Linked DNA regions of Homo sapiens. The protein of the gene in region 4 interacts with the protein of the main gene of each other region in a pairwise test. Each region holds a gene or a part of one and is shown on either strand. Other genes may lie near its edges.

The links.
Region 1: the proteins of GADD45G (region 4) and FAM156A interact in binary tests that used the Homo sapiens proteins (3 or more experiments, as listed by UniProt).
Region 2: the proteins of GADD45G (region 4) and CEP57L1 interact in binary tests that used the Homo sapiens proteins (3 or more experiments, as listed by UniProt).
Region 3: the proteins of GADD45G (region 4) and AFAP1L1 interact in binary tests that used the Homo sapiens proteins (3 or more experiments, as listed by UniProt).

What each region holds. Positions count from the first base shown.
Region 1 is NC_000023.11:52,948,511-52,955,674, forward strand, and holds part of FAM156A (protein FAM156A/FAM156B), read right to left. Parts: intron 6,737-7,164; 5' UTR 6,644-6,736; intron 196-6,643; 5' UTR 79-195; coding exon 1-78.
Region 2 is NC_000006.12:109,098,351-109,105,514, reverse strand, and holds part of CEP57L1 (centrosomal protein CEP57L1), read right to left. Parts: intron 5,324-7,164; exon of another isoform or gene 5,229-5,323; intron 1-5,228. UniProt on the Homo sapiens protein: Centrosomal protein which may be required for microtubule attachment to centrosomes.
Region 3 is NC_000005.10:149,266,824-149,274,883, forward strand, and holds the start of AFAP1L1 (actin filament-associated protein 1-like 1), read left to right. Parts: upstream 1-5,035; 5' UTR 5,036-5,145; coding exon 5,146-5,161; intron 5,162-8,060. UniProt on the Homo sapiens protein: May be involved in podosome and invadosome formation.
Region 4 is NC_000009.12:89,600,072-89,607,132, forward strand, and holds GADD45G (growth arrest and DNA damage-inducible protein GADD45 gamma), read left to right. Parts: upstream 1-4,940; 5' UTR 4,941-5,050; coding exon 5,051-5,103; intron 5,104-5,360; coding exon 5,361-5,462; intron 5,463-5,595; coding exon 5,596-5,809; intron 5,810-5,897; coding exon 5,898-6,008; 3' UTR 6,009-6,484; downstream 6,485-7,061. UniProt on the Homo sapiens protein: Involved in the regulation of growth and apoptosis. Mediates activation of stress-responsive MTK1/MEKK4 MAPKKK.

The DNA.
Region 1 (7,164 bases), on a different chromosome or scaffold from region 4:
TTCCTGGGAAGTCTCTGCAGCTGTCATCGGGGAAGATTTGGAAGGCGATGCTGGATTCCGTTTCTGGAGTGGATCCATGGAGGTCTGGTCCCAGCTGGAAGCTCCGCCAGGCCCTCGGGTCCAGAAAAGGAGGTGAAGCTGGAGGTTCTCAGACACCAAGAAGGTGGCGAGGAATGTGTGCGGGCAGAACCCAGACTGCAACGCAAGGTGATAAGACAAGAAAACACAGAATTATTCATCTTACTCAACCTCTCTGTCCCTCCACTTCCTGTGTGTAGAATGGGGATTATAGAGAGACCCTGTCCTAGGCTTCTTCTGAGGATGACGTGAGATCATACATCTCACCAGCTTAGAATATTAATGCCATCTAATAAAGGATTTACAAATGATACCAATTAATGCATCCACGTGACACGGGGTGCAAAAGGATGCAATGCAGTTCGACGATGTCAATTCCCTGCTGACATTTTCCAACCCCTTCCCAAGCATCATTTGTAGAATAATCAATGTGTGACTCACAGGTGCTCTGCCCATGAGCGTTCATTTTCATCCACTCACAAGGGAGACTTTTACTCAACTGTAAGCGTTTGCACCATGGGGACACACCCTTTTGTATGTTCGCCTTCCTGACCACTGGGTTTGCATCTAGTCGAAAAGGCTGCTCATGCCTATGGAAATCGTTTCCAAATTCCTAGTGTGGATAAGAATTTATTTTGCTAAACAACAGAAGCATAAACCCCCAGGAGACTTCAAACAGAAAAACACATAGATGAATTCAATTAATCCAGGAAAAAAAAAAAAAAAAAAGCTGGTTCTTTGAAGTGATCAATGAAATTGATACACCCGTGGCAGGACTGGCTGGGAAAAAAGAGGGCAAAGAAACAAGTTACCAATATCAGGAATGCAAGAAGAGATTTCACTCCAGACCCAGAAAACATAAAAGGGTCAATATGGTAAGAATACACGCAACTCTACAGATTCACATTCCACAGGTCAGAGGAAATGTAGCACATACTTGAAAACCACAAGCTACGGAAACTCACACAGGATGGATTTCAAACACTGAACTGTGTGCACAGTCCTATATGTTTTAAAGAAGTTGAATTCACAGGCAAACACATTTGCAAAAAGATCTCTGGGCCAAGACAGTTTCACTGGCCAAGTCTACCAAACGTTTAATGAAGAAATATCACCAACTTACACAACTTCTTCTAGGAAACAAAGCAGAGGGAATGCGCCCCACTGATTTTATGAGGCCAGCACCACAGGGATACCAAGAAAAGGACAGACCAGTATTCTTTCCTAGTACAGGCACCAAAGTATTCAACAAAACCTTGCAGTTTGAATTGAGCAATATGTGAGAAGAATAATAAGCCACGATCAAGTGGGTTTTATAGCGGGAATGCAAGGGTTGTTCTTCCCACACCTGAAAATCAATCAATGTAACCCACAGATTGAGAGATCAGATGAAGAACAAAAATGACAGGATCACATCAAGCTATGCAGAAAAACCCTTTGATAAGATTCAAAGTCCACTGGTGATATAAAAGCTCTAGCACACTAGGAACACAAGACAACTTCCTCAACCTGAAAAAGGGCGTGTACAGTCAAACCTACAACTAACAAGCCACTTAATGGTCAACGACTGGATGCTTTCTGCCTAAGGATGCGAACCAGGCAAGGACGTCCACTCTCACCACAGCTATTCAACGTCACGCTGAGGCCCAGTCAGTGCTATAATGCCAGAAGAATCACGGCACACACCGGAGAAAGCAAGAAACCAAAGTACTCCTTTTCATGGGTCCTGTGATCGTCTACATGAAACAACCAGTGTATCTCCCCCAGACTCTCAGAGCTAATAAGAGCTTAGTGCTCATTAATGAGAGCTTAGCAGCAATACAGGAGAGAAACTCAACACACGGAAAACAATCCTATGCGTAACTGGAAACCTAAATTTAAGAAATAATACTGTTTTACAAAAGCTACAAACACAATGCAATGGTTATGTATAAAGCTAAAATACGTGGACGGGGTCTGTATGCCCAAAACTATTAAACGGTAATGAAAAAATCAAAGAAGATTTAGTTAAATGGAGAGAAACAATGTGTTCCCATATTTAAAGACCCAAAAAAGTTAACAGTCCATTGTCCCCAACTTGATCTGTAGAATGAATGCAGTGCCTGCCAATCAGAATCCTTGAGGGACATTTGCATGCATAAACAAGCAGATTCTACAATTCACGTGGAATATCTGATGTTTCAAAAAGCAGAAGGTATTTTAGAGAGATGATATTATCAGATTTTCAGATTTGCTCTAAAGCTGTAATAATCGAGATTGCTGGCTTACAGGGGTAGACGAGTAGATCCATGGAATAAAATAGAGTCCATGAATCCATCCATAGAAATGTGTCCAGTGAGTTTTGACATGGGTGTGAGAGGGAATCCAATGGAGAAGGGATAAGCTTTTCAATACATGAGGTGGCCTATCCTTACGCAAAAAGATGCACCTCAACCTCAACCTTTACACGCAATTAAGGAAAAAGGGTTCAGAGACCTACACGCCAAAGTTCAATACTATGACTTTTGGTAGAAACCGTAGGAGGACATCTTTGTGAGGGGAGGCTAGGACATGACCTGAGATGCATGATCCATGGAAAGGAAAGATGGATGGATAGGAGTTTGGCAAAATTTAAAACTCTGGCTCTGGCCGGGCGTGGTGGCTCCTGCCTGTAATCCCAACACTTCGGGAGGCCAAGGTGGGCAGATCACTAGAGTTCAGTTGTTCGAGACCAGCCTGGCCAACATGGTGAAACCCTGTCTCTACCAAAAAATACAAAAATTACCTGGCATGGTGGGACATACCTGTAGTCCCCAGCTACTGGGGAGGCTGAGGCAGGAGAATTGCTCGACCCAGGAGGCAGAGGCTGCAGTGAGCCGAGATCGAGCCACTGCCCTCCAGTCTGGGCGACATAGCGAGCCCCTGTCTCTAAATAAATAAATAGAACAGAATAGAACAGAATAGAATAGGATAGATAGAATAGAATAGGATACGATACGATACTATACGATAATATACGATACGATACGATACAATACAATACAATACAACACAATACAACACAATACAATACAACACAACTTTGGCTGTGTAAGAGCCAGTGTGTTCAGAGAATGAAAATCAAAGCTGCACCACTAGGAGGAAATGTTTGAGAATCACCAACCTGACAGATCTTATATCCAAAACACATGGCGCGTTTTCAAAACTCCACAATAAGAAAATCAACACCCCAACTAGAAAATGGGGGAAAGACTTGAATGGGAGCGCAAGAAACCATATTTAACATCATTCAGCATTAGGGGAATGCAAATTAACACCATGGAGACTGGCAAGGCCAAGCGAGAACATGTTGGGTGACTGGAACTCTCACACTTTGCAGCTGGGAGGGCGAAATAGCACAGCAACTTTGAGAAGCAGTTTGGCAGTTTCTTGTAAGTCAAACAGATGTTTACCATAGGACCCAGCCATCCCACTCCTGGGTATCTACCCTAGAGAAATGAAAACTTAGGTTCACAAAAAAGCCCGCACTGAATTGTAAAAGCAGCTCGATGCGAAACTGCCCCACACTGGACAGAGGAAAATGTCATTCAGTAGAAGGATGGCTGAACACCTGTGGTCTTCCACACCGTGAAACTGCCTTCATGAAAAAACAACAGCCTGTGACAGAGGCATCTGACACTCATCCGAGATGTTCATCGGGCCAAAAGAAGGAAGCCCGCCTCACAAGGCCACAAACTGTATGGTGTCATTGACATAACACTCTCCCCAAGACAAAACTAGAGGGAAGGAAACAGATCACTTTACACCAGGGATGATGGATGAAGAAGGGGTAACCGCAATGGGGCAGTTCCAGGGAGTGTCCTGCGGTGATGGGACTGTTCTGGATCCCGACTGTGGTGGTGGTGACAAGAATGTATGCCCGTGTCAAAGCTCACAGAACTGTACTCCTGAGGGAAAAAAGTCAATCTTGCTGTAGGTTAAGTGGAAAAACCCAACGGCATATTTTGCGATAAGGGTATCTCTCTGTACTGTTTTGATAAATACATCTTGGATGAGTGCAACCAAAAATTGACATTAAATGCTAAATGGAAACTTTAGATCAGCCTCCCAGGCTCTATTCTTTTGACAAACGTGGAAACCAAGAATTCACTAGTTTTCTTCAGAGGATACTGGTCCTCTGAATGTTTATTCACCAAATCGTGGCTATCAGCCCACACTGGGGCAAGAAAGACAGAACCGTAACAGGAACAGTTTGAATATGTACTGAACACAAACATATATAAACACACACACACACACATCCCAGAAAGAGTTCTTAACTTTTCAGAAATTGCAATCTATCTTTCCTACGAGTTAGTTCCCTGACATCCTTTGGGCCACCACTATCTGACACAAACAGTTAATGTGTGAAACGTTTGGAAAATGATCTTAACCCAATTATCTCCCAGCCAATTCTCATGTGTCACAAGGACTCTCTCAGGATCTATTTCTACATGTAGAAAGCCAATTCTCAGAGAGAGAAAAGACCTTACGACCCCCACCCCCCACGTTTCTTTTGCTGTTTTGTTTGTTTGTTTGAGGCAGGGACTCGCTCTGTTACCTAGTCTGGTGTGCAGTGGCAAAACCTCGGCTCATTGAAACCTCTGCTTCCTGGGCTCAAGGGATCCTCCAGTCTCAGACGCCTGAGCAGCTTGCACTACAGGCGTGAGCCACCATGCCCGGCTAATTTTTGTATTTTTTGTAGAGACGGGGTTTTGCCATGTTGCCTAGGCTGGTCTGGAACTCCTGAGCTCCACATGATCTGCATGCCTCAGCCTCCCAGAGTGCTGGGATTATAGGCGTGAGCCACTGTTCCCAGCCAGAAACACTTTTATGAGAAGAAATGTGAGCCGGGTGTGGTGGCTCATGCCTGCAATCCCAGCACTTTGGAAGGCCGAGGCAGGCAGATCACCTGAGGTCAGGGGTTTGAGACCAGCCTGGCCAACATGGCGAAACGCCATCTCTACGGAAAATACAAAAAAATTAGCTGGGTGTGGTGGTGGGCACCTGTAATCCCAGGTAATAGAGAGGTTGAGGCAGGAGAATCACTTGAACCCAGGAGGCGGAGGTTGCAGTAAGCCGAGATTGCACCACTGCACTCCAGTCTGGGCAACGGAGCAAGACTCTGTCTCAAAAAAAAAAAAAAAAAAAAAAAAAAAAAGAAAAAGAAAAAAAAGAAATAGGAAGATTCTGGAGACATCAACTGACAACCGGCCTGCATAGTCATCGCTCTCTTTTCTCTCTTTCTCCCTCCAGCAATTTTGTGAAATGAAACATTTTACCGTCCTATGTGTAGGTTCATCCAGAGATTCTCAAACCACACCCATGGAGTTGCTCATGATCCCTGACAGAGGCATTAAGGACAGTGAGGCCTAGAGAAGTCCGTTGTGTGTGCGGAGGGGAGCAGCTGCAGCAATACATGTGACTTCCCTTCCTTCATCATCTCACCAATGTCATTTCTTCAACAGGCACTTGCCCCCAGGTAAAAGACCTTGTATCAAAAATCTCTGCATGAAACACCACAGCCTCAAGTTTCCTGCATCATGTCATGCAGCTACCGAAGAGAGAGAAGGACTACTGGAGACAGGGAACCCAGACAGTTTACCGGTCAGACCTTCAGCATGAGAGGTGATGTCTCTGGGTACCAATCCCTCACTGTGATGGTTTTATCGGTCAACTCGGCCAGGCTTGGTGCCTGGTCCCTTTTGGTCAAATGCTACTCTAGTTGTTGCTGGGAAGGTATTTGTGGACATGATTAACATTTACAATCACGCTGGGCACAGTGGCTCACGCCTGTAATCCCTGCTTCGGGAGGCTGAGGCGGGTGGATCACTTGAGGTCAGCAGTTCGAGAGCAGCCTGGCCACCGGGGTGAAACCCCATCTCTACTAAAAATAAAAATTAGCCGGGTATAGTGATGGGTGCCTGTAGTTTGGGACTGCCATGGCCCTTGGCAAGACTTTCACCTCTCATTCACCCTGCATGACTCAGCTGAGATAGCACTTCTCCCAGGAAGCCTTCTCCAAGCTCCTAAAACGCCCTGTATTTCCCCTGTCCCAGCCCCAATCCCACTCAGCTGTCAACAGATGGTTATTTCTCTGTCAACCCACTAGCCCAGGAGCTGACAGAGGCCAGGGACTTTGTCTTGTTCACCCATCACAGAGCCTTGAGCCCAGTGGACATTCACAAATATCTATCAAATGAAACAAGAAGGATGTGGGGCCCGTGATAAACATCTCACTGAGAATGTCAAGTCAACCCTGCAGAATCCATATTTTCCCACGTTGCAAAGGCAGAAATTCCTGCATGGAGAGGTCAAGTAACTTCCCTCAGATCACACAACCACTCAGGGACAGAATTCCCTCCCAGGTCTCCCTGACTGCAGATGAACACACCCCTGGTGGCATTGCCTCTCTGGGTGTTCAGCCTCCCCTGATACCTAAGCGAGAAAGTAATCCTGAGGGAAGAGTTCAGACAGCAGAGTCCTAGGGGCTGACCCGCATGTCCACAGCTGCCCGGGGATCGGGTGCAATGCTGCGAATCCTTACCGTCACTTCCTCCTGGCCAGTTCTGTTCCCATGCCAGAAATGCTGCACCAAACGCACCTCTCACACTCCCCACTCTCATTCGCTTCAATTCTCCTGTGCGGAAGGAGAAAGAGAACAGCTAAGCAAGTGAATCCAGACGACACCCTGCAGATGAGCGCCAGGAAGAGCTTTGTGTTTCTTTTCAAAATTAAGCCAGTCCCATGTGATGCTTTTTTCAATCTTCCACAATAATATGAGATAATAAAATGCATTTATTTCAGTTTAAAGATACAGATTTCATTTAATAATCCCAATTAAATATGGACTTTTTTTTTTTTTTTTGAGACAGTCTCACTGTGTCGCCCAGGCTGGAGTGCAGTGGCATGATCTCAGCTCACTGCAACCTCCGTCTCCTGGTTTAAAGCAATTCTCCTGCCTCAGCCTCCGGAGTAGCTGGGATTACAAGCACCCGCCACCACACCCGGCTCACATTTGTATTTTTAGTAGAGACAGGGTTTCACCACGGTGGCCAGGCTGGCCGC
Region 2 (7,164 bases), on a different chromosome or scaffold from region 4:
AAAGAGAGTAAATAAACTTTTACATATGTGGGAATTTGGTATATGAAAAAGAGGGCATTTACATGGAGAAAGGATTGGCTATTCAATATTCACTATGCCAATATTCACTATACAGTGCTATCCACACGGTAAAATATAAACATATATCTCTACTCCATGCCAAACACAAAAATAAATTCTAGCTAGACTGAACATCTATACGTGAACAACAAACCTTTGTTTTAGAAGAAAATATAGAGTACGTTTCAGACTTTGGGTAAGAAGAGATTTCTTAAAACAAGACAATTTACAAATAAAAAAGAAAAAATGATAAAACTATATAAAAATTAAAATGTCTGTATAACAAAAAACATCATTGATGATATCTTTAAAAAAGAAACATATATAACATAAAAGATTAGTATCTGAAATACAGAAACAAGTTCTATCCTATAAATTATTAAGAAAAACACAAAGGTCAATTAACAAAGGAACAAAAGGTACAATGGAAGTTAAAAGACAAGAAAACACGAATAGCTAAAAGGACAAAAACGTTCTACTTCATTGATCAGGAAAATGCAAATTTAAACAATACAGAAATTATTTTACACCCATTAGATTGAAAAAAATTTTAAAAGAAGCCTATCAGGACCCAGTGCAGTGGCTCATGTCTGTAATCCTAGCACTTTGGGAGGCTGAGGTGGGAGGACTTCTTGAGCCCAGGAGTTCAAGATCAGCCTGGGCAATACTGTGAGACCCTGTCTCTACAAAAAAAAAATTTTTTAATTAGCTGGGTGTGGTGGCACACACATGTGTTCCCAGCTACTTGTAGGGCAGAGGTGGGAGGATCGTTTGAGCCCGGGAGGTTGAGGCTTGCAGTGGGCTGTGATTGTGCCACTGCACTCTGGTCTGGGCAACAGAGTGGGATTCTGTCTCACAAAACAAAACAAACAAACAAAAAACAAACAAAAAAACACGCCTATCAATATTAAGTTTTGTCAAGGATGTGGGGAAATGAAAATTCCCATGAACTGCCAGTGGGAGTGTAAACTGGTAAAACAAAACATAACTTGAAAAATGTGATCCTGTGTATATCCTATAACTCAGCAATTCCACTTCTCCGAATTTATGAGTGAACCCTAGAGAAAATGGCACATATCTGGACATATGTATAATGATGTTCACTGCTGCACTGATTGCAACAGAAAAAAATTTTTTTTTTAAATAAATATACATTAATAGGGACTGGATAAATAAGTTGTATCATATTCATACAATGAAACACTATACACCAGCTAAAATTTGAAAACAAGATCTACATTTAGCAACACAGATAAGCTCTGAAAATATATTGTTGAGTAAAACAGAAAGTAAGTTACAGATAGTAAGATATCTTCTATGTAACATTTTTTTAAAAGACAAAGACAATATATGACTGTGCCAAGAGCACTTTCACAACCTATGTGATATTTCATTTCATTGAAAAAAAAAAAAACAAAAACTAAAGCAAACTAGGTAAAATGTTAACATTTGTTCATTCCAAGGGGTAGTTTAAAAGGGTATTTATTTTGTTACTCTTATTTTTTGTTTGAAATATGTAATGCTTTTAAAAATGACATATAATTTTAATATCTTACCCCTATATATGTATATATTCATGTAAAATGTGGATAAGGAAAATAAGTAGAAAAATAAGAATAAAATCAGTAGTGAGACTGGTTTATAAAATTCATATTGTATGTTGCGTATATTGCTAGAGCTCGCTCACAAATCTTTCAAGAAGAGCAAAATGAAAATAGATTCAACAATTATTGGTTTTTAAAAATCTATCCATTAATATATGTCAGAAATACTAGAGATTTAGTCATTCAAAGCATACTATAGTAAATTTGGAGACACCAAAAACAGAAAAACTGGAGAAAATACTGAAGAGTAAACTTGATTTAAGTGGTTTACTCATTTATTCCTGAAAGATGGAACCAAAATAACATAGAAAAAAGGGGCATGGTATTCTGAGAATAGTATGTATGACAGTGTTTCAGAAAATATGTTTTTGAAGGGCTGAAAAGAATATCATTCAAATCAATCTTGTTAAGGAATTCAAATCGACCTTGTTAAGGAAAACTTAAAAATAAAATATACAGATTCAAATTAAGAGCCTTTATGATTCATTTGGGCAATACACATATACCCCACACATAAAAGTACACATATAGTACTTGGTTGACAAGACATTTTTCAACAAGCCAAAAGAAAAACTAAGGAAGCATTTAGAGGCAAAACTGCTTATGCTACTATACAGTAAATAATTAGTATAATTTCCTTTAAAAACTTAAGTTGAAGTCAGTTATCATAGAAAGAGATATTTTAAGTTTACATGGCTTCAGTGTTTCATTGTAGAGAAGGGTCAAACTATTGTGGAAAAATCACAGGTTGATTTTTGCAACCTTGTAAGACTAGGCAAAAAAGTAGCAAAAAAACAAAAACAAAAACCAGCAATGTAGACAAGTAACAAGGTAATTCAATTGGAGAATAATATTCTTAATTGTAGAAAGTCTTCCTAACAATTTTCACTTACAGCACTCAGCCAACTGCACATGCTGACAACAGATAACTAAAATGGAACTGTTAGTCCGGTTTCCTGATACATTCCAGATAAAGTTCTCCCTGGCCTCATCTTTAGGCTGACTTCAGGTCTCTCTCTCAAGGAACAGTTTTGAAGAATGGCACCAATATAGTTGTACAGATTCAGTATAATGGTCTTTAAAAAAAAGTTTTTCACCTTTTAATATTATTGATCAAAATAATAATTTCAGATCCAGCAGAAACTTTTTAATAAAAACATAAATCTAGGCACAGACCTTATACCTTTTACAAAAAAAAAACTAAAAAATGGATCATAAACCTATATGCAAAACACAAAGCTGTAAAAGTTCTGGAAGACAGGAGAAAATCTACATGACCCTGGGTATGGCAATGACTTTTTAGCTACAACACGAAAAGCATGATACATGAAAGCTGGACTTCACTAAAATTAAAAATTTCTGCTTTGCAAAAGACACTATTAAAGAATGAACAGACAAGCCACAGACTTGGAGAAAATATTTACAAAATGCAGGTCTGATATAGGACTTGTGTGTCCAAAATATACAAAGCACTCTTAAAACTCAATAGTAAGCTGAGCGTGGAGGTGCATGCCTGTAGTTCTAGCTACTTCGGAGGCTGAGGCAGGACTGCTTGAGCCAAGGGGTTTGAGGTTACAGTGATCTATGAAAGCAACACTGCACTCCAACCTGGGTGACCTAGGGAGACCCTGCCTCTAAAAAACAAAAACACTCAACAGTAATAATAATTTAAAAATGGACAAAAGATCTGAAAAGACACCTCACCAAACATGATACACAGGCAGCAAATAGGCGTATGAAAAGATGCTCAACATATGTCATTGGGGAATCACCAATTAAAACAATAATGAGATACCATTACATACCTATTAGAACAGCTAAAGTCCAAAACACTGATACCACCAAATCCTGGCAAAGGTGGGGCGCAACAGGAACTCTCATTCATTGGTGGGAAATAGAAAATGGTACTGCTGCTTTGAAAAACAGCTGTATGGCTGGGCGCGGTGGCTCACGCCTATAATCCCAGCACTTTGGGAGGCCGAGGCGGGCGGATCACGAGATCAGGAGATCGAGACCATCTTGGCTAACACGGTGAAACCCCGTCTCTACTAAAAATACAAAACATTAGCCGGGCGCGGTGGCGGGCGCCTGTAATCCCAGCTACTCAGGAGGCTGAGGCAGGAGAATGGCGTGAACCCGGCAGCGGAGTTTGCAGTGAGCCGAGATGGCGCCACTGCAGTCCAGCCTGTGCGAAAGAGTGAGACTCCGTCTCAAAAAAAAAAAAAAAGAAAAAAGAAAAAGAAAAACAGCTGTGAGTTTCTTACAAAGCTAAACATAGGGTTACCTGAGATCCAGCAATCATATTCCTAGATGAGTTAAAAATTTTTTGCCCAGAAAAAGCCTGCACATAAATTTTTAGGACACTTTATTCATAATTGATAAAAACTGGAAGCAACTAAGATGTCCTTCAAAAGGTGAATAAGCAAACTGTGATATATCCATACAATGGATTATTTTTCAGTGATAAAAACAAATGAGCTCCCAAGCCATACATATAAAGACATAAAATAACTATAAATGCACATTGCTAAGTAAAGGAGCCAGTCTAAAAGGCAACATACTGCATGATTCCATGGTCCATGACCAAAGTTAGCAAAACCTCTCAATATCTGTTCCCTAATTAATTACTCTTCTAAAATGTAACTGTGAAAATTTACTGATCTAAAGAAGTTCTTCTAAATTCCATAACATCTATTGATATGTTGCAGCAAAAAAGGCAGACTGTTTTGTTTTGTTTTTTTCCTAAGACAGAGTCATACTCTGTCGCCCAGACTGGAGTGCAGTGGTGCGATCTTGGCTCACTGCAACCTCTGCCTCCCAGGCTCAGGCGATTCTCCTGCCTCAGCCTCCTGAGTAGTTGGGACTAGAGGCGTGTGCCATGATGCCTGGCTAATTTTTGTACTTTTAGTAGAGATGGACTTTCACCATGTTGGCCAGGATGGTCTCGAACTTCTGACCTCAGGTGATCCACCTGCCTCAGCCTCCCAAAGTGCTGGGATTACAGGTGTGAGCCACCATGCCCAGCCAAAAAGCAGACATTATGAATATAAGAACTCTGAATTAAACAATGTGAAACTGTATCACATTAAATAAAATTTTATGTGACCAGTAATTACATTTCCTAGGCTACAGATTCTGTAAACTTTCTTTCTTTCTTCTTTTTTTTTTTTTTTTTTTTGAGACAATCTCACTCTGTCACTCAGGCTAGAGTGCAATGGAACGATCTCAGCTCACTGCAACCTCTGCCTCCTGGGTTCAAGCGATTCTCCTGCCTCAGCCTCCCAAGTAGCTGGAATTACAGGCGCCCACCACCACGCCTGGCTAATTTTTGTATTTTCAGTAGAGACGGGGTTTCACCATCTTGGCCGAGCTGGTCTCAAACTCCTGACCTCAAGTGATCGGCCCACCTCAGCCTCCCAAAGTGCTAGGATTATAGGCATAAGCCACTGTGCCCGGCTTTGTTTTTTTTAGGACGAACTTTCTAAAATGTTTTTATTATAATGTACCCTCGTCCATCCATTAATTACTTTGTGTTTTTGTAAATGATAGATAAATATGCCATACCTTTGAAAGTTCTGTGGCATTATATCATTCTTCCATTCATTCATTCCTTTATTCTTGCGTCACACATTTATTAAGTTTGTACTAGGTACCAGGCACTGTACTCAGAGGTAGAGATAAGATGATCAACAAAAACAAGCACAGTAGTTCCTCTTGTGTGCTTAAGCTCTACTGAAATAAACACACTTTAATCAAATCATGGCACAACTGCAAAACTAATTGGTAACATAAGAGCAACTCAAGGTTTACGGTGCAATAGGTCTATTTACAAGAAGAGTATTTAATTAGATCAGGGACACCTCTGAGAAAATGATTATTTGAGCAAAGACCTGCAAGAAGAGGAGTTAAAGACAGGCTAGAACAATCTGGACAAAGAACACAGTAAAAGAGTGCTGCATCCATACTCGCTGTCTCCCATACTCTACTAAATAAAAGTACCCATTGTTGGGCACGGTGGCTCACGCCTGTAATCCCAGCACTTTGGGAGGCCGAGGCGGGTGGATCACGAGGTCAGGAGATCGAGACCATCCTGCCCAACATGGTGAAACCCTGTCTCTACTAAAAATACAAAAATTAGCCGGGCATGGTGGCGGGTGTCTGTAGTCCCAGCTACTCAGGAGGCTGAGGCAGGAGAATCACTTGAACCTGGGAGGCGGAGCTTGCAATAAGCCGAGATAGCGCCACTGCACTCCAGCCTGGGCAACAAGAGCAAAAACTCCTTCTCAAAAATAAATAAATAAATAAAAATAAATAAATAAATAAAAGTACCCATCTGGCTTTTGTACCCTTTACTCCACCAAAAGTTTCTTATCAAGATCCCAATGACCTCCATGTTGCTAAATGTACTGGTCAATTATGAATCCTCATCTCATTTGACCTACAGCAACATTTAACATAACTTATTTTTCCTTCCTCCTTAATTACTTTCTTCATTTTGCTTCTAGAACACCTACTGAACAGTGGGTTTTTCTCTGCTCACTGGCTGCTCCTTCAGTCACCTTTGCAGAGAACTCCAAATCCACCCAAACTCCATAGAATATCACTTTTGGTGATATCAACAACTCCTATCAAAACACTACTATAAAATCCAAAATTATATCTATTGCCAGATCTTTCTCCTCACTTCTGGACTCATTTATTCAACTGCCTCCTCCACCTCCACATCTCAATGTGAATTTCTTAGAGGCATCTCAAACTTAACGTGGCCAAGCTAAAATACCAACCTTTCCTCTCTCTCCCATTCACAAATCTGCAGATTTTCCCATAATAGTAAATGGCACTTCCTCCATTCTAGTTACTCAGGTTAGAAACTTTGAAGCCATTTTTGACTCTTACTCTCACACAATCTGTCAGCAAAGTCTGTTGGCTATACTATCAAAATGTATCCAGATTCTGTCACCTGGATTATTACTTTAGTTTCCTAACCAGTCTCTCTGCTTCCACCCTTGCTTCCCTATGGTCTATGCTCAACACAATTTAAAAGAAATATTCACTTCAGGCCAGTTGCAGTGGGTTATGCCTCTAATCTCAGCACTTTGGGAGGCTGAGGCAGGAGGATCACTTGAGGCAATCACTTGAGGAGTTCAAGACCAGCCTGGGCAACACAGTGAGATCCTGTCTCTACAAAAAGACAAAAATTATCTCAGTTATGTAATTTCAGTTAAAAAAAAAAAGGAAAAAATACAAAATTAGCTGGGCTTGTTGGCACGTGCCTGTAGTCCCAACTACCTGGGAGACTGAGGTGGGAGGATTACTTGAGCCCAGGAGTTCAAGGATGCAGTGAGCTATGACTATACTCCAGCCTGGGTGACATAGTCAGATTCTGTCTCAGGAAAAAAGAAAGAGGCCGGGCACGGTGGCTCACACCTGTAATCCAGCACTTTGCAAGGCTGAGGTGGGTGGATCACTTGAGGTTAGGAATTCAAGACCAGCCTGACCA
Region 3 (8,060 bases), on a different chromosome or scaffold from region 4:
TGTTTAAAACAATTGGAATTCATTACCAACACTTTTAAATCAAAAGAGATTTCTCACTGAAATCTAGATTTCTGGGTTCTGCTGAAAAAGCTGAAGATTGGCCACTCCATTTCCAAGCTGACTGGTGACTGGCCCCTCAGACGGAGCAAGAGGGCTCCGCTTTGCTGTGGCCCCTCCACTTGCATGGCCTGCTTCCTGCACACCCTTCCCTGCCCGGCCCTGTAGGTGCTTCAGGGCACGAGCCTCGCTTCAGGAGCCTAAGATCTCGCTTAAGGAGAAGAATCCAAAGGGATGGAGTAAGCTTCATGCAGCATTTCAGCATAAAACAAAAGCTCCTTTTCCTTCAGACACAACCACTGGGCTTGGTTTTAACAACTGTGGAAGCTGAGCCCTGTTGCCTCCATGCAAGTAGGAGCCCCGTGCCCTGGAGCAGAAACCTGAAGGCGCATGGGAAGAAGGAGTTTTCATCCATCCATGAAACTCTTTCTCTTTCTCCCAGAAACAGCCACTGAGATCTCTATCTGCTTTCCGGGGCCCAGGGTGGGCCAGCAGACGTGTGTCATTTCCCTGGATAGGGGCTATAATGGCAACATTGTGCTAAGTGGAACAAGAGAGGTTTTCATTGCAGCCAGCATCAGGCAGACACCCGATCAGAGGGCTCTGGGGATCACCCCACACAAAGGAGCATGGGAGAGGGGCCCTGAGCCAAGGAGAAGCCACACATCCACAGCAGCACACAGGGGCTGGGCAGCACAGCAGCATGTCTCCAGAAGGCCTGGTCACAAGTTCATTTCCCCCTGCAAATAAATAAGCAAATACGACAATCCCAGAGGACAAATGGGACCCCCAGGACACATGCATTAATAGAAGCCAAAACTGGCAGGCCTTACACACCCTTGAGTATGTTTTCACTGACTCATTCCACAAATACTATTACCATTTACTAGGTGTTTGGGCACTGTGCTAGATTCTAAGGATCTAGCAATGAGTAAGACAGCGCCCGCTCTCACAGCATTTGCAGTCTGGTGGGGGACAGGGAAGCATAGGTAAAGAAGCACATAAGAAATTATGTACTATTGACCCAGTGGAAGAACTGAGATTCACACGGCAATGAAGTTGACTTAGGAACCCAGATCTGAGCACCCATCTGTTGTTTTTCTTACTCTTCCTGAAGTCTCCTGAGATCACTGCAGGCTCAGTGAAGAAGGCACCCCAAACACCATAATAAGAAATCTGGACTCTCCGCTGAGGGCCCGGGGAGCCATCACATATTTTTAAGGGGGTAGTTGCACGGTCTGATTGGGATCATGGAATGGTCGCTCTGTTGGCCATGGTGGAAACAGTCCCTAGAGGTAAGGTGACAGGTTAGGAGGCTAGAGTATATTTCTCTCCCTGGAACAAATAGTCCTGAGCCTCCAAATTTTTCTTTCCCAGGGTTTCCCAGTTCCACCTGATAAGCGAAGAATGAGACTAGGGAGTATCATTTGTTTTCACAAGACAGGGAGCAGGAGGGAGTTGAAAGCTTTCTTCCTGGTATTGTTCACTAAGGCTAAATTTGATACCTTCTTACAGAGCTGGAGCTCCCCACATAGCATTCTTTAGACAAAATCCAGGCAAACCTGGAAAACTTGGAAGTCAGCAAAGTAGGTAGTGAAAAGGAAGATATGAGGCAGATTCTAAAAATCCTTGCCAGAGAGTTGCACTCAAAATGAAATGGAAAGGGGAAGAGAAAAGCAGGTATCACAACCTTCATTCCTATCCTTGCCCTGATGCTTATCCCCCAATAACCCACGATCCAGCCAACCTGAACTGCTTCACAGACACGTCCTGCTGCCTTTGAGCTCAATGTCTTTGCTCTCACTGCTCTTTGCCCATAATGTTATCTCCTCATTACACATTCTCAGTTGCCTGCCTTCCAAATATCTGTCATCCATTACAGCCTCCATGATTAGTAAAAAAGTCTTACTTTGTCTGATGGACTCCAAGACCACTTTATTTCTCCTCTGGTACTTTTCATACAATAATTTATATTATATTATTTTATACATGTCTGTCTCCTCTACTAGATTGTAGATTCCCTGAGGGTGAGAATCATTCCTACTTAGCATTTCTTCTCTCAATAGAAACTTGCACAGAGTGCAATCAATATTGCCTAAGCGAATTTATGGGCAGTGTGGATTGTTAGTTTTTATGAGGAATATAGAACTCACTAAAGGAAACATACAGAAAAAAAAAAAAGTTATTCCTTGTCCAAACCCGCAAATAACTTTTTCATCCATCTCAGTTACTCTGACAGCAACCAAGCTGTAGACAACTAGTCAACATTGCCACCTAGTGGACATTATGGGTAATTATTTAAACCAGAACCCCTATACCTTGCCAGCAACAATTTTTTGTTGATTCTCAGAACTGTGCACAGACTGTGTTCTCCCATTTCTATATCCTTCCCAGACCACAGCTCAGTTAATTCCACTCCATAAATTATTCCATTTTCCTTAGCCTTTTTTACTTTTTCGTTCCAATTCTCTGAATATATCTCCAAAGTCCTTGAAAGTTTCTGAAAGTTCTCTAAACATCTCTACAGGCTCATGCCTGTCATCCTAGCACTTTGGGAGGCCGAGGCCGGAGGAGCATTTGATCTCAGAAGTTCGAGACCAGCTTGGGCAACATAGTGAAACCTTGTCTCTATCTTAAATATTTTTTTAAACATTATAAAAATAAAAATATTTACAAAAGCCTCCGTCTGTTTTTGCAATAGTAACATTTCATACTGTTTTTCTAAATTATTTCAAATGAAATATTATGTTTTTAGAAGAATTAGTGAGCTAGCCTGAGAACTTAAAATACAATTTATGGGAGGCCGGGCGCGGTGGCTCACGCCTGTAATCCCAGCACTTTGGGAGGCTGAGGCGGGTGGATCACGAGGTCAGGAGATCGAGGCCATCCTGGCCAACATGGTAAAACCCCGTCTCTACTAAAATACAAAAAATAATAATAATAATAATTAAAAAATAAAATAAAATACAATTTATGGCCTTGTTTCCAAGTGTTCAGAGTTCAAACAATAAACTTTTAAAACTTAATCCACTGGTAAATTGTTGGTTGGCTGCTTTAGAATTGAAACTGACCTTTTCAAATTGGAAAAGGGGACAGCAACAAAAAGGAACTCAGAAAATAATAATGGCTCATATTTTATAGCTGTTTGTGGTTTATAAAGTGGGTTTGTATTATTTCATTTGCCCTACCAACAGTCCTGTGAGGACTTACAGTATGAGGCTTCCCATAGCACAGATGAGCAAGAAAACCTCATTGACGAAAAGTTATTATACTATGTAGTATTTAGATTGGAGCAAAAGTAATAGCGTTTTTTGCCATTACTTTCAGTGGCAAAAACCACTATTACTTTTGCACCAAACTAACAGAACAAGAGCCATGCACAAGTTTTCATACACTGTTCACAACATCACATTTGGTCTGAGTGCTCACACACACACACACTAAATTACTGATGCAATATTTTAAGAAAATGTTAATTTTAATTTGCCCATAAAAGCAATAGAGAAAATATTCCCGGCCAGGCTAGGTGGCTGGCGCCTGTAATCCCAGCACTTTGGGAGGCCGAGGCAGGTGGATCACCTGAGGTCAGGAGTTCGAGACCAGCCTGGCCAACATGGCGAAACGTCGTCTCTACTAAAAATACAAAAATTTGCCCGGAGTGATGGTGGGCGCCTGTAATTCCAGCTACTCAGGAGGCTGAGGCAGGAGAATTGCTTGAACCCGGGAGGCAGAGGTTGCAGTGAGCCGAGATCGCGCCACTGCACTCCAGCCTCGGCGACAAAGGGAGACTTTTCAAGAAAAAAAAAAAAGAAGAAAAGAAAATATTCCCAGTCCAGGAAAGTACAGGAGGGTCTTTCCCAGGCCTTTTGTTGCCTCCATACCTCTGTGGTAGCTGTTCCCTGTTCCAGAATGTTCTAAGTAGGGAACAGTGGTCAGCTCAAAGCTGAAAACCATGGCCTGGCCCATGGTGGGAGGAGCAGTGTCTAGGAGAACAATTGGTCCTGGACTTTATGAAGGGTCTTAAAGTCAGACATTTGATATTGTGTATAAATGAGTGAGACCTATTTTCACAGGGATATACTAATAAGGTGAAGAAGTTGACATTCTTCATACAGCTTTAAACTTAGATCCCATTACTGTTCCACACTGGTCATAGCAATATTTTCTACAATCTTGCGAAAAGTACACTTATATTGCACTGTATTTTGTATGCTAAAAGTATTCATTTCCACATTTTTTATCACCCTGTTCTGCATGTTTTCACGTGTTACTCATTTTTCTATTCTTTTTCTGAATTCTCCCAGATCCTCGTTATGTTTTCACGTTTTAGTACACAAGGAACCTCAAAAGTTGAAAGTGTCCCAAGCCCTTGCCCACCTTTCAGCAAGCCTCTCTTTCTCCCTTTCCCAGGTGCTTTTCTTTCTGAAGATCTTTGTTATTATTTAACTCCTCTTTCGCAACACCACTGACATTGCACCGGCATCGCCGCGGGCCCACTGTCTGGCTTAGAAGGTGCTCAAGAAAGACCCGCGGCGAATGGAGAAGACAAGCCCAAAGCCAGGAAATGGGTGGCGGCTGCAGGGAAGGGGGTTTTGATTCCCTAGGATAAAAACGCGCTCCAACAGTCTCCGCATTCCGGCATGGAGCCGGCTGAGGGGTGCGGTGGTAAGACCCCATCGCTAGCGGAGTGCAAGCAAAGCCGCACACCTCCTGGGTCCGGGCTGGGGCAGGCCGCGCGGGCGCGGGAACGAACGCGTGCGGACGGGGAAAAGGGTCCTCCAAGCCCAAGTGGGAGCGCCGCGGAGGGCGAGCGAGCGGCAGGGCGCGGCGGGGCGTGTGCGGCACCACGGGACAGCGGGCTGCGGCCCAGGGGGCGAGGCGTGCTCGGGTCTATTCCGGGAGCGGCTCTGAGGGGCGGGCGCGGGCGCGGGCGGGGCGGGGGCTGCCGGCGAGCATCCTGTCTGGGGGAGGGGACCGCAGAGAGCGCCGGCCGCTGGGCTGGCCTGAGAGCGCAGCGCGCCGGCCGCTACCAGCCGCGCCGGAGCCCCTGCGCCCTGCGGCCCGCTCCCCGGGGACCGGGCCGGCGCCATGGACCGAGGCCAGGGTAAGAGGGGCCGCGACGCCCGCACTTGTTGCGGCGCCGGGCGGGAAAGGGAGACTGGACGATCTGAAGCCGGAGAGGAGGAGGGAGAGAGGCGGGCGGTGGGGCGGGGGCTGAGGAACGCTCGGAGGGGACTGGGAGACGCGGCGCTTATGCAAAGGTGCCTTCGGCTGCCGGGACAACCCGGTGCGTGTCAACGCCCGTGTCCTGGGGCCAACTCGCCTCTCGTGTGTGAAATCAGAGTTTTCATAGGCTAACGATTTGTAACTTCATAAAAGATCCCCCTCTAGTTTCCGGAGGACAGCGAGCTCCTCCCACCTCATTCCACTCTAAAGGGGAAAACAAGGTGTACAGGTTCAACTCCCGAAACACCCGCTGTGGGCAGCCCCTAGGGAGAAGCTCTAGGGGACCGAAGTTTGCAGCTGCCTAGGGCATTGCGAGAAGGAGGAGCGCCGTGAGCAGGCGCGCGTGTGCATGCATGTGTGCGCCAGGGAGGGAGGAGGCGGGGGTGGTTCTATCCCGCACCAGCTGTGTCCTCGGCCCAGCCCTTCTCTCTGGACCAGCGACAAAGTTGGACTAGATGGTCTCCAAGGCACCTTGCCGACCCTTTTCCAGTGTATTTGGTAGACGTTTCACAGAAGTGGAGGGGACTTACTGAAATTGAGATTGACATAAGCCGAGAGGGCAGCATTCGTAGGGGGCTAGCGCACATTTTTTTCTGTTTGTTTTGTTTTGTTTGAGACGGAGTTTCGCTCTTGTTGCCCAGGCTGGAGTGAAGTGGCGCGATCTTGGCTCACTGCAACCTCCGCCTCCCGGGTTCAAGCGATTCTCCTACCTCAGCCTCCCGAATAGCTGGGATTAGAGGCATGCGCCACCACACCCGGCTAATTTTTGTATTTTTAACAGAGACGGGGTTTCACCATATTGGCCAGGCTGGTCTGGAGCTCCTGACCTCAGGTGATCAGCCGGCCCCGGCCTCTCAAAGTGCTGGGATTACGGGCGTGAGCCACCGCGCCCGGCAGCGCACATTTTAAGTAAAGGTCTAGACATGGCCTTTGGCAATGGCCAGATGGGCATGTGTGTGTCTGTAAAGAAGTGGCCTGCTTGGACATGTGAACAGTGTCAGAGGCTGGGAATCAGAACCCCAGGGTTTCAGTCTGCACCTCTGGGATCCAAAGAGATCACAGGTGTGACGGCACTAGATAAACTAGTGAGTGCTGTGCCAACAGGCGAAGTGTTGTTGTTGTTGCTGTTATTAATAATGGAAAATTCATTCCCCTCCCCACGATAATCTCACACCTCTCCCCCATCTGCCTGTTTGCTGTGCTGAGCCCCCGAAGGGAGGAAAAAAAGAAGGGAACAGGGGCATGGGAGCAATTAGCAGGCACTGGGGCAGGGATGAGCCGGGAGCAGGTGTGGGGTAACCTCCCTTACTCCTGTTAAACGGAAAGTCAGGCTTGGCGAGCTCAGAGGGCCAGAGGGGACTCCTGGCTTCCAGTTCAACCTCCTCACTTGCCCCTCCCCAACAGAGAATACTGCATTCACCTTCTCCTTCAGGGACTGGGAAGGGCAGGCAGGAAAGAGAGTGGGCTTCTGTTTGGTTCTTTAGCAACTGAGGCCTAGATTTGTAAAGCAGTTCTCACCTGTTAACTGATTTCTAGGCAAGTGTGAAGAGTGTACATCAGGGAGGAAAAACAGAGAGAAGAGGCACCTCTCACACCCCTCAGTCCTGCTGTTCCCACCTCCTGCATAATGCGTCTAAAGCAAATACCACCATCCCCCCTCCCCTTCACACTCCTAGTCGCCCGCCACCTCCCCAACCTCTCCACCACCCCCACTCCCCACCAGTTTTTAAATACCAACCTGTCTGATCTCCAGTACAAAAATCCATACCTAGGCCTACCCAGGCCTGTGGAAAGTGCACTGTGTCATCCTAAGACAGAGTGACAATAGTTCACTTCACTTTAAATGCTTGGTAACCAACAACCTCCACGTCAGAAGGCTGCCTCCAGAGCACTCTTCCTAGGAAGTCAGACTTCCCAGGAATCCCTTGGTGCTGAGAGCCTAGGAGGGCTCTGACCTGCTCTCTCCCTGCAGGCTTTTCTAGCCTGCTATCTTTCTTTACACCTCTTGTCACAACTTTATAGACATAGTTATCTGACTCTTTAGTGTCGGCCTCCCTACCCAGAAGTAAGCTTCAGGAAGGCAAGGAGTGGATCTATTGTGATCAATCTGCTGACACTGCACCTGGCACATAGTGCACAGTGAGGAGCTCCAACAGTGGTTTAATTAGTAAAATACAACACACTTTATAGTGCACCTCGAATTGATTACTTGTACAGCAATACTTAGTAGTATTCTCTTTTTAAAAATCAACATTGCTGTACAAGTAATCAGTTTGAGAATAGTACTAAGTATACTCAGATCAGTTCTTGGTGACTTACAAAGGCCATCTCAAGTAAAGTGGTCTTGTGGCTGGGCACACAAGATCAGTTTAACTGTCTGGCTCCTCAGTTCTCTACTCTGATAAATAATTGCAAACACAACCGTTTATGAATCAGAATGAAAAATCTGCATGCATTTTTAAGATAAAACATGAGACTTCAAGTATTCCAGGCTGGGCACAGTGGCTCACGCCCATAACCCCAACACTTTGGGAGGCCAAGGTGGGTGGATCACTTGAGGTCAGGAGTTCGAGACCAGCCTGCCCAACATGGTGAAACCACATCTCTACTAAAAATACAAAAATGAGCTGGGTGTGGTGGCGGGCGCCTGTAATCCCAGCTACTCGAGAGGCTGCGACAGGAGAGGAGGCATCGCTTGAACCTGGGAGGTGGAGGTTGCAGTGAGCCGAGATCGAGCCATTGCACTCCAGCCTGGGCGACACAGCAAGATTCTGTCT
Region 4 (7,061 bases):
GGCTTACACGTGCCAGTGGACCTAATGTGACATTTGGAACATACTTACAGTGACAGAGAGGATGTGTGCCACCAACTCTCCCCTACACAAATGAACAAGTCAGATCTGAATTTGTAAGTCTTTCGGGACACTGTCCACCAAACTAAACCCATCTGTGGGCCAAATGGCAACCAGGAGCAATCTTATAAGACCCCAATAAGGTTCATGAGGGGTAAAGGGCACAATTTTTATTTCCTAGGTTGGGAAACTAAGGTTCAGAAGACTTGGGCATGTAGTCAAGCTGGGAAGACTGCACATCTGTGGCTTCTCAGGGGTTTTCAGCTACAGTGCAGGCTGGTGTCTGTCACTACCTAGGACTGTGACAGGTGCCATGAATCATTTCTTACTGTCGATAGAGAAGGGAACAAATGCATAAATAATGTATCCTTCCCCCTCAATTACTTTGAAGGATTTCCCTGGGCTAATGTTAACCTCTTTCATGCTACATAAGTGCTCACCCAAGAATAACTGCTCCTTCCAGAAAGTCTTTGCATAAGGATGACTGACCAGAAATGTCCAGCTTTTGCTAGATGTGTGTGTGGGAGGTGTCCTCCTTTCTCAGCTTCCTGCTTCTTGTCTCAGTTGTCCTCTGAAGCCTCCCCATGTGCAGATTCATGCTTCACCCTGGGTAAGGAGGAGGGCATGGTGGTGGTGAGAGCCAATGCAATGGTGTCCTTCACATGCTGGAAGGCATCTGAGATGCACCTGTTGGGTTTTAAGTAATAGCTTTTATGTGTCCTGCATGAAAACCTGGCTTCCTTTTGAGTTAATGTACTATTGTCACTGAGTTGCTGCTGCCCCCTATCATTCAAGAGCTTTTTTGGACCGAAGAAAACCCAACAGAGGACCCCCGAGGAGACTTGTTCTGGCCCGAGAAGGGGCTGGACGAGGGAGAATAGTGAGGGCAACATGAAACCTTTTGGAAACGGGCCAGCCCAGAGTGCTCCAAGAGCCCTGTGCTGACATAGGACACTGTCCTGCACAAGCTGAGACACAAATGATGCTCAACCTTTTTGGCTTCATCTTTAGGAACTTGGCCCCTTTATTTTGTGCTTCAAACTTCAGTTTCTTGATTGTAAGCGCAAATGTCTGCAGGTGACAGGAGGGTGATGTAAATGAACAAAGCAGCCAGGTGTCCTCAGCTGGGGTCTGGTGGGGATTGAGGTGAATGGGAGAGCAGTGCCCAATGCGGGATCCCAGTGCCCCCGACCCCTGCTGAAGGTTACCAAGGTGGGGAGGGGACTCTAGGCACATCATGGCCAAATCTACCCATTTTCCAAGAGAAGCTAGAAATCCAGATGTTTATATGAATGCAGCTAACTTTGAAAAGTGGCAGTGAATTTGACTTTGCCTAAGACGCCTCATAGGCCAAAGAAATCCCACGTGCAGTCTGCAAGGGGCTGGTGCGTAGCCAGCTTTGCATCCCACAGCCTCTGGCTGACTGGTCGTGGATTCTGGCACATTGTTTGGGTAGGATAAGGGCATACACCTGCTATTTAATAACAATGTTGTGCACTCTCCACACATAAGTAACTTGTGAAAATACAACAAAGAATATCTCATAAAGCTTACTGCTTACTTAAAGCTCATTTCCTTCTGTACCCAAATGAAAGACATCTGCCCATCAATGACCTAGTCAAGCCATGGAAGAATGAGAAGCACATTTTAGAGAATGTGTTAATAAAAACAGTTCAACTATAAACATTTCCAAAAAGGTTTTAGAATAGAGCATCTCTGAGGATATCCCTTTAAGTAAGTCACCATCACCTGCATTATTGAGATTTAGGGGAAGGTTTAGGGGTGCAGTCACAGGAAGCTCAGGACAACATCTCAGCCACCTGTGACCTGAAGCACAGAGCAGGCCAAGTCCCTTGCTGCATGCAATTTGGGAGAGCTGTGGCCACAAAGCCGTGTAGTGGGATATTCTGGATCCTCAAACTTCTAGTGGGCATTGCCCACTCCTCAACACAGGGGCATCCCAGGCCCAGAAGCTTCAGCATGTGTCTGAACTGAAGGGTGGTGGTGGGTCTGCTGGAAGGCCACCTTTGCCTGCAGACAAAATTGTTCTTCCCAATTGAGATGGGGGCTTTGGGGCCATTGGGACTGACATAACAAAGCAAAGTGAGGCTGTATCATATGTCAAAAAGGCAGTTTCCTGAAATTGAATACTTTAAAAATGTGAGCAGAGTAGAACAGCCCCAGGGGTCGTCAATCATCTCTTCTGGTCCAGGCTAGCTCAGGAGGGACTGGAAATGCACCCACCCCCAACTCGAAGCCGGGAGTGTTCATTAGTGGCCTTCCTCTCGGAGGAGGGGCTGAGGCTTCAGGCCTAGCCTTTGTTTTCTCTGGCCTGGCATGTAGGCAGATTTTTAGCGTCATAAATTGGAGAGGTGGGTGCTAGCATGTTAAGTAAATCTTATTTCCAGCATGTCCTGGGGACCTGGGACTAATACATTTTAAGAAATGTTTAATAGTAGGCCGGGTGCGGTTGCTCATGCCTGTAATCCCAGCACTTTGGGAGGCCGAGGTGGGTGGATCACGAGGTCAGGAGTTTGAGACCAGCCTGGCCAACATGGTGAAACTCTGTTTCTACTAAAAATACAAAAATTAGCCCGGCGTGGTGGCGCACCTGTAGTCCCAGCTACTCGGGAGGCTGAAGCAGAAGGATCGCTTGAACCCGGGAGGCGGAGGTTGCAGTGAGCCGAGATTGTGCCACCGCACTCCAGCCTGGGCAACCGAGCGAGACTCCGTCTCAAAAAAGAAAAGAAAAGAAAAGAAAAGTTTAATAGTTTTAAAAGAGTAATACCTATATTCCAATCACTTAAAATTAACATATTTTATCCAATCAAGGCATATCATCATTTTATACATCAAGAAAGAAAAGAAACTAGCGAACAAACGGGGCATAATGCCGCCTGGCTCCGCTTCCCCCTCCCCTCTCCCCCCGTCCTTAGGAGACACCTCTGGAGTTCAGAAATGCTAGGAGAGCAAGCTCTTCATTCTTAGAATCCAGGAAGGGCCGGGCTTTTGCAGCTCTCCTCTGCCAGGAAGCCGCTGGGGGGCGCAAGACGCCAGCTTCTCACCTTGGCAGAAGTGCCTGCCTGCAAGCGCAGAATGGAAACTTCCCCATAACAAATTCAGAAGTACCTTGTACATTCACCACCCACCTGAAGAAAGCCTGAATGAAAGGAACAAAGCCACGGCGTTGTTTACTTTCCCATTATCGCCCCAGTCTTGCGGCAGGGCCCGGGTTTCCATCCAATCCACCCGGCCCGCCACTGTCCTGGCCAGTCTCCAAGGCTTCACCCAAAAAAAGGAAGCAATGAGGTGTCCCCCAGCGCGCCTTTTCACGTAGCACAGAAGGTGCTCAGTGGGTGAATCCTCTGAAAGTGCCAGCGTGTATGGTCAAACGGCAGCAACCTCTAGCCTATTAAACTCTCCCAAGATCTCTTCCAGACTTATTCCATTGCCGGAAAAAAGGCTTTTTACATATGCGCATTTAAGTAATTAAGATATTTCAACATGGTATAAGACGTAGGGGCTCTTACTCCATCAGTACTGGATGGGAATTTCCTTTTGCCCTCTACTCCCCAGGGTAACTGCAGTCCCACCTGAATGCGTTTTGCAGCCCTTACTCGGGTTCTATTTATGCGCAGCTTGGACAGGGCTCACTGGGCCCGGCCGGGCAGCTCCGTGGCCGTCCCTCTCCACCGCCCTTCCCCCGCGCCAGGCCAATGCAAGGGTGTGTGTGTTGGGGGGAGGGGAGGACAAAAGGGGTTCAGGATCTTTTTAACCTGCCTGCAGATGGCGCCCCGGGAAAGATTCCGAGCTGCATTACCTAAGCTCCAGGGGCTGCAGCCGCGGGGTCCCGGCCACAGGGCGTCCAGCCGCGAAGACTGCACAGCAGCTCTCCGTCCTTCCCAACTCGCGCGGCTGTTCGGCACCCGTGCGAGGAACGGATGGAAGGGAATTACTTGTAGCAGGGCCAGTACTGGGGGCGTGCACTCAGGGACCACGGAGTGGCACTCAGCCTCGACCCCACGCGCCAGGCAGCCCGGCGACCCCCACGCGCGGCGGGGTCCTGCCCACCCCACCCGGCGGCAGGTGGACAGTGTTGCTATGAAGAGAAAGCCTCGATTGTCCCTACAGCAAACCGCCACACGCCAGACCTCTGCTATTGTGCGCCCTCCATAGAAATGCAAACGAGCGGCGTGCGCCGGCCGCAATCTGCTCGTCCCCGCCCGCCCCCGTCTCCCGCGCCCCGCCGCGCTCGGCCAAGGGCGGGGAGGTGGGGTGGGATCTTCCAGAGACGGCTCAATGTACACATTGAGTATGCCTGGCAGGCATCACCAGCGCGCTCGGGACGCTAGTGGTCAGCTGCAGGGGGCTGTGCCCACTGCCTTTTGCAAGCCTCTAACTGGCGCTACCTGTTTTTACCTTAATTTCTGGCTCCAATGCAACAGTCTCATAGACTTCAAATTAAAGAAAAGAAACAAATAGAAAGGTAGCAATACAAAATGCAAAAAAAAATCCCTTTGCTTCTATAAAGGTGCTTTTCGCAAATTGCAGCATCATATAAGCAAACAAGGTTTTTGTGGGTTGGGTTTTTTCTTTTTTTTTTTTTTTTACTTTTTCCTTTTAAGGACTTCAAAAAAAAAAAAAAGCCAGGCGAGATGAAATCTGCAGGCTCCAGTCTGCCTGGTAACACCCCAACAAAAGCGGCAGATTTGAGGCATTGTCATCCCCCGCACCCCTCCCCACGTGGCCTTCTGGCACGAGCCGCTGGCTCGCCGCCTCATTTACATCAGAAAGCGGGTGCCGGCCAATAGGCGCGCAGCCTCGCGCCAGCTGGCGGCGCCGCACCCACCAGCCTATATAAGGGCGCGCAGCGTAGTAGGGGCGCACTCGCTGGTGGTGGGCGCGCCGTGCTGAGCTCTGGCTGTCAGTGTGTTCGCCCGCGTCCCCTCCGCGCTCTCCGCTTGTGGATAACTAGCTGCTGGTTGATCGCACTATGACTCTGGAAGAAGTCCGCGGCCAGGACACAGTTCCGGAAAGCACAGCCAGGTGGGTTTCAGGGCGCTGAGAAAGCCGCTGGTCGGTCGGCGACCGTCAGGGTTTTCCAGGGTGGGAATCCGCGGGGTAGGAGGGGAGCGCGGGGGTCCGGGCGCCAGATCCCGGTTGGAGAGCCGGGGTGCAGGCGCTGAGCCGGGATTGGAGTGTGGTTGGAGTTGGGGAGCCAAGGGTGTGTGCCGGTGGCCGGGGCTGGGGTCTCCGCCGCGCCCTCCGGCCGGCTCCCGCTCACTGCGCTGGCTCCTCCGCAGGATGCAGGGTGCCGGGAAAGCGCTGCATGAGTTGCTGCTGTCGGCGCAGCGTCAGGGCTGCCTCACTGCCGGCGTCTACGAGTCAGCCAAAGTCTTGAACGTGTAAGTGTAGACGCGGCCCAGGCTGGGAGACAGGGGCGGGGGTGAATGGCGAGGAGACTGGCGGATGGGAGGGGTGGCGGCGGGAGAACTCGGCTAGCCGGTTCTGACCTAGGTCCCCGCCTTGCCCTCGCAGGGACCCCGACAATGTGACCTTCTGTGTGCTGGCTGCGGGTGAGGAGGACGAGGGCGACATCGCGCTGCAGATCCATTTTACGCTGATCCAGGCTTTCTGCTGCGAGAACGACATCGACATAGTGCGCGTGGGCGATGTGCAGCGGCTGGCGGCTATCGTGGGCGCCGGCGAGGAGGCGGGTGCGCCGGGCGACCTGCACTGCATCCTCATTTCGGTGAGTACAGTCCCGTCCTGTCCCCGCCCCAGTGTCGTTCCCGCCTCGGCCCGCGGCCAGCCAGGCTGACCCTGCTCTCTCTCCGCAGAACCCCAACGAGGACGCCTGGAAGGATCCCGCCTTGGAGAAGCTCAGCCTGTTTTGCGAGGAGAGCCGCAGCGTTAACGACTGGGTGCCCAGCATCACCCTCCCCGAGTGACAGCCCGGCGGGGACCTTGGTCTGATCGACGTGGTGACGCCCCGGGGCGCCTAGAGCGCGGCTGGCTCTGTGGAGGGGCCCTCCGAGGGTGCCCGAGTGCGGCGTGGAGACTGGCAGGCGGGGGGGGCGCCTGGAGAGCGAGGAGGCGCGGCCTCCCGAGGAGGGGCCCGGTGGCGGCAGGGCCAGGCTGGTCCGAGCTGAGGACTCTGCAAGTGTCTGGAGCGGCTGCTCGCCCAGGAAGGCCTAGGCTAGGACGTTGGCCTCAGGGCCAGGAAGGACAGACTGGCCGGGCAGGCGTGACTCAGCAGCCTGCGCTCGGCAGGAAGGAGCGGCGCCCTGGACTTGGTACAGTTGCAGGAGCGTGAAGGACTTAGCCGACTGCGCTGCTTTTTCAAAACGGATCCGGGCAATGCTTCGTTTTCTAAAGGATGCTGCTGTTGAAGCTTTGAATTTTACAATAAACTTTTTGAAACAAACTTATGCTCTTTATTGAGGGTAGGGGATCTTTGTGTCGGGGGAGGTGGCGTGCAGGGTTTCAGAGGATTGCTGGAACTCCGTGGAACTGATGGCACCTGTTCCGTCTTCCTGTCGGGCAAGAATGACAGGCTCCTCCCCTCTGGCAGAGGGAGGGCATGCTGCCCAGTGCTAGGGTAGAACTTGAGCCTGGCTCCTACTTTTCTCCTTTTAGGAAGATTTTAAACTTGCAAAACAGGAGCATACTTGAGATAAGACAGTGCAGCAGCTGAAGTCTTGCCTTCCAAGGCGATAACAGTGACCTGTGCCTCCCCTCCCCCTCCTCGGCCCTCCTCCCCCTCCCTCCTACAGCTGCTTATCTGAACAGCTTGCAGGAGGCCTCAGGCTTTCCTGCACAATGAGCATTGCCTTCTGCAGGCCCTGCCCTTTGTGGTCCCTGAGGATGGTGGCAGACTGCTCCTGCTCTTGGGGACTTTTTCCTCTTAAATGCTCTGACACAAAGCAATGCTACAAAGGTACTAATACCAAATATGACATTGATGACTGCATTTAAGTATGAGTCATTACTTTGTCATGGCT